Homo sapiens: one gene and its partners. The protein of the gene in region 2 purifies or fractionates together with the protein of the main gene of each other region. This does not show direct contact. Each region holds a gene or a part of one and is shown on either strand. Other genes may lie near its edges.

Region 1 (3,500 bases), on a different chromosome or scaffold from region 2:
ATTTTGGTCATTGGGTTAAGGTTCCTTACCAAGGCTGATTTATAGTAGCGGTGCAGGATATTGATGAAATCAGTGATGGTCAGCATGCCTAGAGGACAAGACAGAGCCCTCAGCACTGCCTGAAGCTTGTCTCCCTGCCCAGCACAAGATGCCAATAATATTGTGTTCCAGAAACTTTTGCTTACCCACAAAACTTTGCTTCTTACTATCCCATAAAGGGGCAGCTCGTACACCGTTAGTCACCAAAGCAAAAAAAGCTTTCTTCACCTGTAGCCAAGACAGTAATAATCATAAAGGCAAATCCACAGGGGCAGGACTGTAAAAAAAGAACAGTGTTTGGGCATGTTGGGTAAAACATGAGACTAACTTCACAGAAGGATAAGGATATTACCCTTAGGATGAGATAGGATGAGAGGTATTAAACCACAGGCTCCAAAGGGGGAAGGGAAAAGAGGATTTCACCCACCTGCAGGGACGTATCAAATACAACCAATTTGGAGCTTGTGGGAATCAGGTCATAGCAGCGATGAGACTTCATGAAGGAAGTATACACGCTATTGTTGGATTCTGGGGTCTCTGCATAGGGTGGGATAGTTAGTAGCTTCCTTCCACATAAAAACTCCCAATCAAAAGAGACAGAAAACAAAATAGTGTTCTAGTATCTCAAATATTTAGAGCATTATTTTTTAATAAGACCCCTTATTTTATCTGTCTTGTTCCTATTGTTTCCACAAAACCTGGATAAACCTCTTAGAAACCATTTCATCCAACCCCTGTCTCCAGGTTAAGACTTTATCTATTGGTCCCTATAGGTAAAAGAAGTTGACTAAAACATAAAGCCTATAGTATCTCTCTTTAACATGTTATAGTCTAAAAATGTTTCTCATCTTTAATCCAAGCTTTCCCTTTCATATACTTAGCACATTTTCACTTTCCTCTTTTTTCAATGAAGTAAGCTTCTTAAAATTCTTCCAAGACTGTGCTGGGGATGGTGGCAAGCACCTGTAATCCCAGCTACTCAGGAAGTTGAGGCAGAGGATCACTTGAACCCAGGAGCTCGAGGCCAGCCTGGGCAACACAGCGAACCCCTGTCTCAATTAAAAAAAAAATTATTCTAAGACCTGCAAATGGGAAAGTCATGGTCCAAGTTGGGCCATTTCTCATTAACAATAAGTTGGAGCCCAGTGCTCAATCAACCTGGCTCAAAACACCCTGATAGTCCATTCTGGGATCACCCTGTAAATCAGAAATCATCCCACCTACTCTAGACAAATGGGAGATCCTGGCTAGTTTACCTTTTTCTATTCCTGTGATTTTAATTGCTTGCTCTAAACTAGGGAAGTAATCTCCCAAAATAATAGCTTGAATGTGCTACATACTATACTACGTGCACTTAAAAATATTACATTGAGGCTGGGCGTGGTGGCTCATGCCTGTAATCCCAGAACTTTGGGAGGCCAAGGTGGGAGGATCACCTGAGGTCGGGAGTTCAAGACCAGCCTGACCAACATGGATAAACCCTGTCTCTATTAAAAATACAAAATTAGCCGGGCATGGTGGCGCATGCCTGTAATCCCAGCTACTCGGGAGGCTGAGGCAGGAGAATTGCTTGAACCCGGGAGGCAGAGGTTGCGATGAGCCGAGATCGCAACATTGCACTCCAGCCTGGGCAACAAGAGTGAAACTCCGTGTCAAAAAAATAAATAAATAAATAAATAAATTACATTGGCTGGGCGTGGTGGCTCACACCTGTAACCCAGGACTTTGGGAGGCCAAGGTGGGTGGATCACCTGAGGTCAGAAGTTTGAGACCAGCCTGGCCAACATGGCGAAACCCCGTCTCTACTAAAAAAATATAAAAATTAGCCAGGCGTGGTGGCACGTGCCTGTAGTCCCAGCTACTCAGGGGGCTGAGGCAGGAGAATTGCTTGAACCCAGGAGGTGGAGGTTGCAGTGAGACGAGATTGTGCCTCTGCACTCCAGCCTGGGCGACAGAGTGAGACTCCGTCTCAAAAAAAAAAAAAAAAAATTACATAATTTAATCCTTACAACAAATGTGTAAGTAATGTCCTCATGTTTCAGATGAGAAAATAGGTGTAGTTAAATAAACTGCTCAAGGTCACACCATTAATAAGTGGCAAGAAAGACTCAAACAAACCCAGATCTGTTTCCAAACTTCATGCTCTTAAGTCTTTAATCAATTTGGTTTTTAATATTTATTTTTTTAACCAAAGTTATATAGACACACAGTTAAATCAGTCCAACAGTTTTACAAATTTTGTTAAGAAAAAATTGCACTCCTTGCAACCCACCTCCCTGTACTACCCTTCCCCAGAGATGAGAACATCTATCTACCTTAGTTGATTATTTTGGTACTTAATTCTATGTCCTTAAATAACATGCTTGTATTGCTAGTTTCCATTTTTTTTTTCATTTTGGGGCATTATTTATCATCTATCTACCAAAGAAGATGAGAATTTCTAGTTCTCTCTCCTACTAGGACTCCACCACAAACACGTACTTCCCATTCTCCTCATTATTCCAGGAGCTAAACCATAATGTTGGTTATATCCGTATTTCAATCTTTTTTTTTTTTTTTTTTGAGAGGGAGTCTTGCTCTGTCACCCAGGCTGAAGTGCAGTGGCACGATCTCAGGTTACTACAACCTCAGCCTTCCAGGTTCAAGCGATTCTCCTGCCTCAGCCTCGCAAGTAGCTGGGGTTACAGGTGCCCGCCACCATGCCCGGCTAAATTTTGTATTTTAGTAGAGACAGGGTTTCACCACATTGGCCAGGCTGATCTCGAACTCCTGACCTCATGTGATCTGCCCGCTTTGGCCTCCCAAAGTGCTGAGATTACAGGAATGAGCCACTGCACCCGGCCAGTATTTAAATCATTTTGACTGAATATTTATTATTCAGAGATAAGCCAAATAGTAAACTCTGATTTTTTTTTCTTCCTTCACAACTTTGTTTTACCTGGAGTTAATGTCTTGTCCTTTTGTTTAATTTTCTATGTATAATTCTTATAACTAATCCAACCCCCAAATGCTTCACCAACTATTTAAATCTCCTTTTAAGAGGTTCAAAAGCATTAGACAGTCTATCAAAATTTAAACTACCCAAAGAAATCTCCCTGGAGCCTTCTGACCTGCTCAAATCTGGGCTGGTTTGTCTGGTGTGCACTGCTGTCATCCTGGGATCTTTCTTCATCACCATCCTGGGTACCCCTTTCACGTCTGTCCTCTACTGGTGCTCCTATATCGCGTTTTTATCTTTTTTGATTACTCCCTTATTTTGGTGGAACACATCTTCCAGTAGCTTCCTGAGAAAGGGTGCATGGGAGGTATGTGTTTTTGAGACCTTGCAGCCTGTAGATATCTTTATTCTACCCTCATCCTTGGATTTATAATTCGGCTGAATAGAGAATCTGCAGGAAAGCTTGGAATGTGTTTTCCTGCAGAATGTTGAAGGCATTGCTCCATTGCCTGCTAGCTGCTGG
Region 2 (3,500 bases):
GCACTGAAACCAAGTGTGTTATATTCAAAATAATTTGTGGATTTTATAACTCATCTAAATAAAGCTCCTCGCTACCTCATTTTGCATTACCTACGACTAGGACTCACGGATTATCAAAAACTCACTTTTCACAAGAAAGGACCCAGCTATTCCTCTATTTAGCTAGCTACCACACTCTTAATGTTCAAATGCAATCTGATTCACTATTTAACTATTTGAACACTCTTACATAATTGCTTTGGTACATAAAATCAGCAACTTCACAATTATTAACAATTACAGCATTTTACTTTTTCAACAATATCTATTCAAACTTCGATTGATAGAATTTCAATGTATAAATCACATTAAGGAGTATTTCAAGTTATATCTAAAATACTTACTGTTATTTGAAAGTAGTAAGTCCAAAGGTCACACCTCTCATACTGACATTGTTACATTAATTCCATATGATAGTAACTTAAGCTATTACATGATGGTAGATCACACACAATTCAGGGATGCTAGAAATGTTAAAAGCACACCTTCCAAAGACCCAAGCTAAATGGCAGATTTTGGCAAATTACTAAGGACAAAGGTGAACTTCTGAACATCCCTAAATTGGAGAGCAATTTGGCAGTGCCCACCAAAATTCAAATTGTACTTACCTTTGACATGGCTAGTCCATTTCTAGGAATTTATTGTAGATGTACAAAATGTTCTATTAACAAAATATTAACTATAGCACTGTTTCTTAAGCAAAAGATTGGAATGTCCATTAATATGGAGGCTGGTTAAATACCTTGTAATACTATGACAGGCTACATGTTTAGCGGTATTATGGCAGCAATCTCTGGAAAGTGACTCCCTGGGCTCTAATCCTGAGCCCTACCACTTATAAACTGTGTGACTGTTGGACATTTAATCATCCCGTGCCTAGTTTTCCTCATTTGTTAAATATAGAAAAATAGTGCCTATCTCATAGGTTGTTATGAGGCTTCCATGAGTTAATAAAACTAAAGTATTAAGAAAGCATTTGGATCAGGAGTAAGCTCTCAATAAATGTTACATATGATGATGAGGGTATATTAATACAATTGAATACTAAACTATCATTAAAAAGAATGAGGCAGTTTTAACTGTATCAATGTGAAAAGATCTCCAACGTAATACTCAAGCGAAAAATGTAAGGTCCAGAATAATACGAAGAGGTGCTACCATTTGTGGATAAATATATGGGGGAAGAAAAGAATAAGGATGAGGGGAGAGAAAACACACTTGTATGAATATATAAATTTTACCATATTTGTACATGTATTACCCATTCAACTGAATTAAAAATATTGTTGGATGAGTAAATGAATGTTAAAACAACTGAGCCAAGTAAAACTATTATATATTGCACCTAATTGACTGAGCAAATAATAGCACATATTATTATTACATATATATTTTTCTGAGACAGGGTCTGGCTCTGTCACCCAGGGTCTGCAGTGGCACGATCTCAGCTCACTGCAACCTCTGCCTCCCAGGCTCAAGCAATCCTCCCACCTCAGCCTCCCGAATAGCGGGAACTAGATGTGTGTGCCACCACGCCTGGCTAATTTTTTTTTTTTTTTTTTTTGTACAGACATGGTTTTGCCATGTTGCCCTTCAATTCCTGGGCTCAAGCAATCCGCCTGCATCGGCCTCCCAAAGTGCTGGGATTACAGGTGTGAGCCACTGCACCCAGCTGGCAAATATATATACGGTCCTTATGTGCTAGTTATTATTCCAATCGCTTCTATTATTCACAACATCCAATGAAGTTAAATACTCTTATTATCCTTATTTTAAAGTTGAGAAAAATGCAATGCAAAAAGACACAAGTAACTCCTCCAAAGTCACACCACTAGGAAGCAGAGCCAGGATTTGACTCACACAGTCTGGTTTCCTTCATCTCTTTGTTATATTAATACTACTCTAAAATTATTTTTATTTACATATATCCCAACTCTTGTAAAAAAAACTTTGGACAGCTTACATTAAAGCACATATATGCAATTAATAAAACTGGTAATGAAAAGGGGAAGTAATACCAATGTGAGAAAAAAATACAGCTACTTTAAGTATGCAACAAATCCAACTCTAAAGCATCTGCTATTTTCTGTCTAGGCTTTGAATGATGTATTCTACGGAGATACTTTTAAAAGGACAGAAATCAAGTATTAAACAATTATAAGTACTTTTTATTTTGCTTCTTTAAAGAAGTTCTTGTTTAAAGTTTTCTTAAGGCAAGTTAATCTTGTAATCCAGTTTATATGCCAAAACCCAAATAGGGACTTTTCTTATGATTCTGTCATATGATTAAGTCAGGTGACAGATCCCACACTTGTGCAATGTGCTCTACACTCTAAGGCAGAAAGCGTGTCGATAGCACTGACTATCCATACCAAAAATAACATGCCAAATTTGTAATCCTATCTAGTAGTCCCTATCATTTTTTGGTACATTTTTCTTTTCTTTTTTTTTTTCTTACTTTTGAGACAGGGTGTCGCTCTGACGCCCAGGCTGGAGTGCAGTGGCACATTCGCAGTTCACTGAAACCTTGAATGCCCCGGGATCAAGTGATCCTCCCACCTCAGCCTCTTGAGTAGCTGGGACTACAGGTGCATGCCATCGTGCCCAAATAATTTTTTTAATTTTTAGTTTTTACTGGTAGAGGGGGGTCTTGCCATGTTGCCCAGGATGGTCTCCAACACCGGGCTCAAGCGATCTACCTGCCTCAGCCTCCCAAAGTGCTGGGATTACAGGCGTGAGCCACCATGCCCAGCCTGTTTTTCCTAATTACAGAAACACTTCATGTCCACTGTAAAAATAAAAACATATAATGTAAAGTGTAAGGAAGAAAGTAAATCATCTTAGTGCCCATTGTTTCCCATAATCCATCATATACACAGACATGTACAAACATGTAGTTTTATATAAATATGTTACTATGGATATTCTGTCTCTTTCCTTTTCTGCTTATTTCCTCTTTCCAACGGTGACAACCAGGTAAAAATATACAAAACTCATGGTGTTTTTCAACTGGTTTTATAAAAAATGAGTTATCATTACAAATGTTTCTCTGTACTTTGTATTTTTTTTTCTTAAGATACATGATGGCCTGGGCAATAAGGTGAAACCCCGTCTCTACCAAATATACAAAAAATTAGCCAGGTGTGGTGGTGCACACCTGTAGCCCCAGCTACTCTGGAGGCTGAGGCGGGAGGATAGCTTAAACCTAAGAGGAGGAAGTTGCAGTGAGCCAAGACAGCACCAGTACACTCCAATCTGGGTAACAGAGCAAGATCCTGTCTCAGGAAAAAAAAAAAAAAAAAGACACATGATAGAAATCCTTTCAGAATGTACTTGGAAATCCTTTCTAATCACCAGTAGATTTAACTCCTACCATTTAATCACTTCACAACATTCCATAAAATGCCTCGGCCATAATTTACATAACAATACCCCTATTAACAGGCATTCCCTTTGTTTCC
Region 3 (3,500 bases), on a different chromosome or scaffold from region 2:
GGAGACAAAGTGAATAGTCTGAAAGGTGTAACACTCAATAAATATCGTTATCACCCTGCATTCTAGTGGTCTATTTTTCTGGTACCCCTGTTAGACCATAAGATTTTTGAGTTTTTGTTGTAACATTCTGACCATAAGATTTTTGAGTGTTTGTTGTAACCTTCTGAGTACCTAGTACATTATCTAAGACATAGTAGGCATTCAATAAACATTTGTTGAATGAATGGATGAAAACCCAAATGAAGATCAGTTTGTGGCACAATGGATGTGACAGTCTCCTTAACCAGACCACTAGGGTGTGACATGGTAAGTTCAAGATTTTATTTTATTTGGTTCAAATCAGGACAATATAAAACCTAGGACGAGAAAGGAGCTCCCATCAACAGTTACCTCAGGGCAGTAGGTTTTTCTTTTCTTTCTTTTTTTTTTTTTTGTTCCAGAGACAGGGTCTCACTATGTTGTCCAGGCTGGATTCAAACTCCTGAACTCAAGTGATCCTCCCACCTCAGCCTCCCAAGTAGCTGGGACTATAGGTGTGCACCACTGTGCGCAGTAGCAGTCACCTAGGCTGGAGTGCAGTGGCACAATCTCAGCTCACTGGAAGCCTTGAACTCCCAAGCTCAAGCAATTCTCTTGCATCACCCCACCTCCACCCCAGTAGGTGGGACTACAGGCAGATGCCACCACATCCAGCTAATTTGGTATGTTTTGTAGAGATGGGGCTTCGCTATATTGCCCAGGCTGGTCTCAAACTCCTGGGCTCAAGCAATCTGCCCTCCTTGGCCTCCCAAAGTACTGGGATTATAGGCATGAGCCACCACTCCCAGCCAAGTCAAAGATATTTAACCCACAAAGAGAAGAAGTAAACTAAGAAGCAGGGAAAGAAGAGAAGGCAACCACAAATCCAAGTCTGAATTAGCCTGACTCCTTTCCCCAATAGCATGATCAGGTTGATTTAATAATGAGCGACATGAAACACAGGGGAACCTGACTGCCCCTTACATATGTGCCTAGCAAGATATTTCTCCAAAATTAAACTCGATGGTTTTAAATTGGAGAAAGTGAAGAACTGCATCTTCACTTTTGGGAAGTGGGAAGATTCACTTTTGGGAATTGGGAAGATTTAATGTTCCAATATATTTTTTTTTAACCAACACTAATCTATTTCTGCTTCTTCTCTATGCTAATGTCATAACACTAGGAGATCTGGAGACCAGCCCTTCACACACCCTATAACCCTAAGGGAGAACATTAGGAACAAGTGTGTGGAGCTGGCTTTTTCAGAAGTCACACAAAAGGAGCACTCTACTTACCGATAGGCAAAAAGCGGCAAGGGGAATGGGAGGAACAATCTGTGAGCCACAGCAAAGATGTACTTCACCAGGTGGAAAAGGAGGTACCGACTGGGACTATAAAAAGACAATACACAGTTCTTTCAATTACACGCTTCTCACAAAGTTTCCTTTATAACAAAATAACATTTTCCTTATAAAAAAGGAAACATATATGCACTGTAGTAGATACAGAATAGCACAAAGAAAAATCACCCATAATCCCATTATGAAAGATAGTTAATATATTTGATCTATATCCTTCTCATCCCCTTACATATATACATTATTCTGCTTTTAATAAATACACAATCCATTCTATTCCGTAATGTCTTTTTCATTTAACATTACATCATAATCGTCTTTCCACATCATTATTTTATTGCATGTTTCATGACAACATATTACACTGCATGTAATCACAATTATTTTATCAATTGCCAGTTTTGAGATATTTATGCTATTAAAATTTTTTTCTTTTATAATGTTTTAATGAACATTCTTGTAATAAATATTTGTACTTATCCATGATTACGCATTTAGAATATATTTGTAGAAGTGGAACTGGGTCAATGTAGACTTTAAAATTTTAAGGCTTTTATTGAATACTTCTAAACTGCTTTTCAAAATGGTTCTATCAATTTATATAAAATGTTAAGTATATAACATTTTAGATAATTATATAAATTATAATTATATATATGTAATTATATATAAGAATGCCCCCTCCACCCGAAATGAGTTGTCATAAGAAAATAAAATTTTTGCCAATCTGCTAGGTTAAAAAAAAAAAGGTATCTCATGTTTTAATTATTATGTCTTTAATATGAGAGATCATTTCTTCACGAATTTTTGGTCATTTATACATCTATCTTTTCTTTCCTCCTGGAGTCCCTGTCTATAAAAATAATTTGTAAGAATTCTCTATATTTTAGTGATATTGTTGGAAATACCTTTTATTGTTTGTATTTTAACTTTTAGTGTTATTTACAGTGTTTTGTGCACATAAAATTTTAACTGTTTAATTTAACCAAAACTACTGATTTTCTTTATGGCTTGGATTCATAGTTAGAAAATTCCTCTGCAGTGACATAAATTTCTACATATTTTGTCTAAACCTTATAAAAAAGATTTTTTTTTTACTATAAAGTTCCTTCTGTGACGTATTTTTGTACATTATATAAGGTAAACATGTAATTATATTTTTCCCAAGATGTAAGCCAATTGCTTCAATGCTACTTACAGAATCATTTACTGTACTGCCTCTTTCCCTATACTGAAATGTCACCCTTATCACATACTATATCCTTACATATAATGGGACTGTTTCTGAACGTTCCGCTCTATTCCATTAATCTGAATAGTTCTGTACGATTTTAACCTAGCATTAATAAGTATCAGTGCTTATAATGCATTTTAATATTTCTTTACCCATTTCCTAATTCATTTGCATGCTTCATGACAGTAAATCTGTGACAACCAAGAGCTGAGTGAAGGTAATTCAGTGAGAACCTCATTATTCTGACATACTTTACTAAAAAACATGAAACTATCAGCCAGGAGAAATATCAGACAAAGGCCTTAGCAGGGTTCTTCAAATTCCAGAGGGATTTGTAAGGATCATTACAGGACATATAATACATGCTACGCCAAGAGCAACTTGAATTTTTACGATGACAAACAAAACTGGTATCATGGGTTAACTAACTCTACATAATAGGTTTCCTTTTCAGCTGTTCTGAAGCACTTTGTGTTCCATCAAGTGCAACCGGAACACTAGTTTAAGTGCCCTTCCTCACAGCCAAAGGTACATTGAAGCCCGCATCCTCCCAGCTTAGATTTCAAGGCTCAGCATCACAGTTATTCCTCTGCAAATATCCTCAGCAAAATCTTGTCTCCCAGGCCCCTACCCACTATACTTGCTAAGCAAAACTCACTCTGGTTGACCCAAACATGTGCCTTCTCTGAGCCTGAAACCCCAGAAGGACAAAACTGTAGACGAAATACAATTGAACTGATTGACTTCACCTTATTTTTTTATCAGTAATTTCCAATGGAACACTCAGTTCTGCTTGGCAATCCCACATGTTCTCCTAGGAAATGCTCTTTCCTGTTCTCCCAGGGCATACTTTCTATCTTCTGTCCTCAAATTTTCCACACACTTTTCTG
Region 4 (3,500 bases), on a different chromosome or scaffold from region 2:
GTTGTGATGTTGACTTTGATTTTGCTGGACCTGCAATCCATGGTTCAGCTGTCTTTGGTTATGAGGGCTGGCTTGCTGGCTACCAGATGACCTTTGACAGTGCCAAATCAAAGCTGACAAGGAATAACTTTGCAGTGGGCTACAGGACTGGGGACTTCCAGCTACACACTAATGTGTAAGTATTTCTTTCATAGGATACTGTGATGTGGGCCCTCAGAGGATGATTTTGATGTCTGTCATCTTATTGATCTGGGTGCACCCTAAAGGATTTCTCATAACATTTAAAAACAAAATCATTCTTGGTCATTTCTAGGGTGCCCCTTGAAAGTTTATAGTAGAAGACTGTTAGTCTGACCTTTGGTGCTGAGAGAGTAAATGTTCATTTTATATGGGGTTTAATGTGCTTTGTATTTTTACAAGAGGCATTATATATTGGCAGACTGCTACCAGTACATTCATTTTACTTAATTATTTTGATGTGTGAGATGCTGACTTGATAGGATTGCCTAAAATGTATGGTGTTTTGTGGTTGGGTTTTTTTTTCTTTTTCTTTTTTCTTTCTTTTTTTGTTTTGGTTCAGACAGAGTCTTGCTCTTTTGCGATCTCGGCTCACTCCAACATCCGCCTCCCGGGTTCAAACAATTCTCCTGCCTCAACCTCCCAAGTAGCTGGGACTACAGGCGTGTGCCACCATGCCTGGCTAATTTTTGTATTTTTGGTAGAGACGGGGTTTCACCATGCTGGCAAGGCTGGTCTGGAACTCCTGACCTCGTGATCTGCCAAAGTGCTGGGATTACAGGCGTGAGCCACTGTGCCCGGCTATTGTTGTTTTTTTGTTTGTTTGTTTTTAATTATTTTTGTAGAGATGGGGTCTTGCTATGTTGCCCAGGCTTGTCTCAAACTCCTGGCCTCAAGCGATCCTCCCGCCTCAGCCTTCCAAAGTGTTGGGATTATAGGCGTGAGCCACTGCATCCAGCCTGGTGTTTTTACCTAGCCCAAACTAGATAGATACATAGAAAGTACTTAAAATGTTTTTCTTTCCATTGTAAAAATTCATTGGTAAATAACAGAAGCACAAAGAAGAAAACCTACGTTTCTTACAATCATGCCAGCTAGGTATATAATCTTTGTTAATGTTGTGGTTCACCTTTTTATATGTGTGTGTATATATACTTATATATAAAATACGTAACCAAAAGGCTGTTTGAGAACCTCTTGCATGTTTAATACAGTGTGATAATTCCACTGAATGGATATTCTGTGGTTCATTTTACCAATCCCTGTATGGGTATGGGTTGGGGAAAAAAACCTGTTAAAACTTGCAAGTTTTCAGTGGAACACTAAAGACCCACTTGAGCTGTGGTTTTTTATTTAAATGTAATGCTACAAATCAGCCTGTGCCTTAGACATTATTACATTGTCTATTCTAGATCTACTAATTTAAAATATCTTATAGCAATGATGGGACAGAATTTGGAGGATCAATTTATCAGAAAGTTTGTGAAGATCTTGACACTTCAGTAAACCTTGCTTGGACATCAGGTACCAACTGCACTCGTTTTGGCATTGCAGCTAAATATCAGTTGGATCCCACTGCTTCCATTTCTGTGAGTACTTTTGTGGACTTAGAATGGGGGTTTTGGTTGTGGGAATGAGTCTTTGGGTATACTGAATTATGTTGAAAATTTGAACTGATTTCACACAGTCCCCAGTTTACAGATAGATTAGTTTTAGATTTTGAAATGCGCTTTTTTGATGGATACAGTGTTAGACGTTTTATTTCCAGGCCAGGCTGGTGGAGTTTGTTTAACCTCAAAAGCTGCCGAGTTAATGTTGATGATAACCTTGAGCCATAGGCCTGTCTAAGTCCAGGTATAGCTGGTGTTTGGTCCCTGAGTGGTTCTTACTGTGTCAGAAATAATAGTGCTTTTTTAAGGCTCTCTGTTGTCGAGGCTGGACTGCAGTGGCACAATCACGACTCCCGGCACCTTGACATCCTGGGTTCAACCTCAGCCTCCTACTATTCCCAACTAATTTTTTGATGTTTTTTTGTAGAGATGGGATCTCCATATGTTGCCCATCCTAGGCTCAAGCTATCATCCTGTCTCAGCCTCCCAAAGGAGGCTGTTGGGATTATAGGCATGAGCCACTGCACCTGGCTAGTATTTTAATCATCACTTTGTCTTTTTTTTTTTTTTTTCTTTTTTGAGATGGAGTCTCTGTCGCCCGGGCTGGGGTGCAGTAGTGCGATCTTGGCTCACTGCAACCTCCGCCTCCTGGGTTCAAGCAGCTCTTCTGCCTCAGCCTCCTGAGTAGCTGAGATTACAGGTGCCCGCCACCACACCTGGCTAATTTTTTTGTATTTTTTAGTAAAGATGGGATTTGTTGGCCAGACTGGTCTCAAACTCCTGACCCCAAGTGATCCACCCGCCTCAGCCTCCCAAAGTGCTGGGATTACAGGCATGAGACACCACAGCTGGCCGCCTTCTCCATTTCTAATTGCACTACAGCAATAAAAACCTCAAGATTCATACAGTACACTATTCTGTTACTTACATTGATGTTCTTGGATGTCTGTGGCATTTTAACAGATTTAATGTAAGTGGAAGAAGCTTCTCTCAGCTACTAGGAGTTCATAGTTAAAATGGGAAGGCAGCTTGGGACCCCTGTGTCATTTAATGACTCCTGGGAATTAGTTTGGAAATGTACCTAGCCTTTCCCACTTCAGTAATGTTAGCTGCCACTCCAATTCAGCAGTACCCAGAAGCATTGCTTAATGCTCCTTGTGATATTAGGAAGTATATATTTGGTTCTCCTTCCCTCTCCTGGCATAGAACTCCTAAAAAATCCTTGGAATCCCGAAAGTATTAAGTATCTTTTTGTATGCTAATGAGTTTTGACTGGTGGCTGGCCACCTTTAGGTAGCTTCGGGCTGGAGGCTAGTCAGTGGAGAGACCAAGGTGTGATTAGAGGGGGTGGGGAGAGGGGCTGTAGGTTTAATTGTTCACCAATGGCTAGTGGTTTAATCAGTCATGCCTGTATAATGAAGCCTCATGAAAACCCACAAGGACAGAGGTCAGTGAGCTAGGTAGCTGAGGTTACTGGAAGGTGGCATGTCTGGAGAGGGCATTGAAGCTGTGTCCCTTCCTATGTTTTGCACTGTACATCTCTTCATCTGTATCCTTTGTAATATCCTTTATTAAAACTGGTAAATGTAAATAAAGTGTTTCTTGAGTTCTGTGACCTGCTCTAGGAGATTAATTGAACCCAAGAAGGGGCTTGTGGGAACCTCTGTTTAGAGGTGCCAGGTCAGAAGCAGAGTTAAAACAACCTGGGGCTTGCAGTTGGCATCTGAAGTGGGAGGAGGGCAGTCTTGTGGGACTAAGCCCTTAACCTGTGGCATCTGATGTCTCCAGGTAGAATTAGAGGACATTTAGCCAGTGTCTGCTGCAGAAATTATTGCTTGCTTGGTGTGTGAGGAAAGCCCTCACACATGTGGT

Evidence for each region. The genes of interacting proteins can lie anywhere in the genome.
Region 1: the proteins of ATP6V1A (region 2) and PRKAG1 fractionate together in Homo sapiens (co-fractionation; one large-scale study listed by BioGRID). This does not show direct contact.
Region 3: the proteins of ATP6V1A (region 2) and NDUFA9 fractionate together in Homo sapiens (co-fractionation; one large-scale study listed by BioGRID). This does not show direct contact.
Region 4: the proteins of ATP6V1A (region 2) and VDAC2 fractionate together in Homo sapiens (co-fractionation; 2 studies listed by BioGRID). This does not show direct contact.

Annotation. Positions count from the first base shown.
Region 1 is NC_000012.12:49,005,277-49,008,776, forward strand, and holds part of PRKAG1 (5'-AMP-activated protein kinase subunit gamma-1), read right to left. Parts: intron 3,324-3,500; exon of another isoform or gene 3,150-3,323; intron 577-3,149; coding exon 467-576; intron 317-466; exon of another isoform or gene 268-316; coding exon 186-267; intron 116-185; coding exon of another isoform or gene 89-115; coding exon 30-88; intron 1-29. UniProt on the Homo sapiens protein: AMP/ATP-binding subunit of AMP-activated protein kinase (AMPK), an energy sensor protein kinase that plays a key role in regulating cellular energy metabolism.
Region 2 is NC_000003.12:113,753,535-113,757,034, reverse strand, and holds part of ATP6V1A (V-type proton ATPase catalytic subunit A), read right to left. Parts: intron 1-3,500. UniProt on the Homo sapiens protein: Catalytic subunit of the V1 complex of vacuolar(H+)-ATPase (V-ATPase), a multisubunit enzyme composed of a peripheral complex (V1) that hydrolyzes ATP and a membrane integral complex (V0) that translocates protons.
Region 3 is NC_000012.12:4,680,114-4,683,613, reverse strand, and holds part of NDUFA9 (NADH dehydrogenase [ubiquinone] 1 alpha subcomplex subunit 9, mitochondrial precursor), read right to left. Parts: intron 1,410-3,500; coding exon 1,314-1,409; intron 1-1,313. UniProt on the Homo sapiens protein: Accessory subunit of the mitochondrial membrane respiratory chain NADH dehydrogenase (Complex I), that is believed not to be involved in catalysis. Required for proper complex I assembly.
Region 4 is NC_000010.11:75,220,796-75,224,295, forward strand, and holds part of VDAC2 (non-selective voltage-gated ion channel VDAC2), read left to right. Parts: coding exon 1-175; intron 176-1,456; coding exon 1,457-1,607; intron 1,608-3,500. UniProt on the Homo sapiens protein: Non-selective voltage-gated ion channel that mediates the transport of anions and cations through the mitochondrion outer membrane and plasma membrane.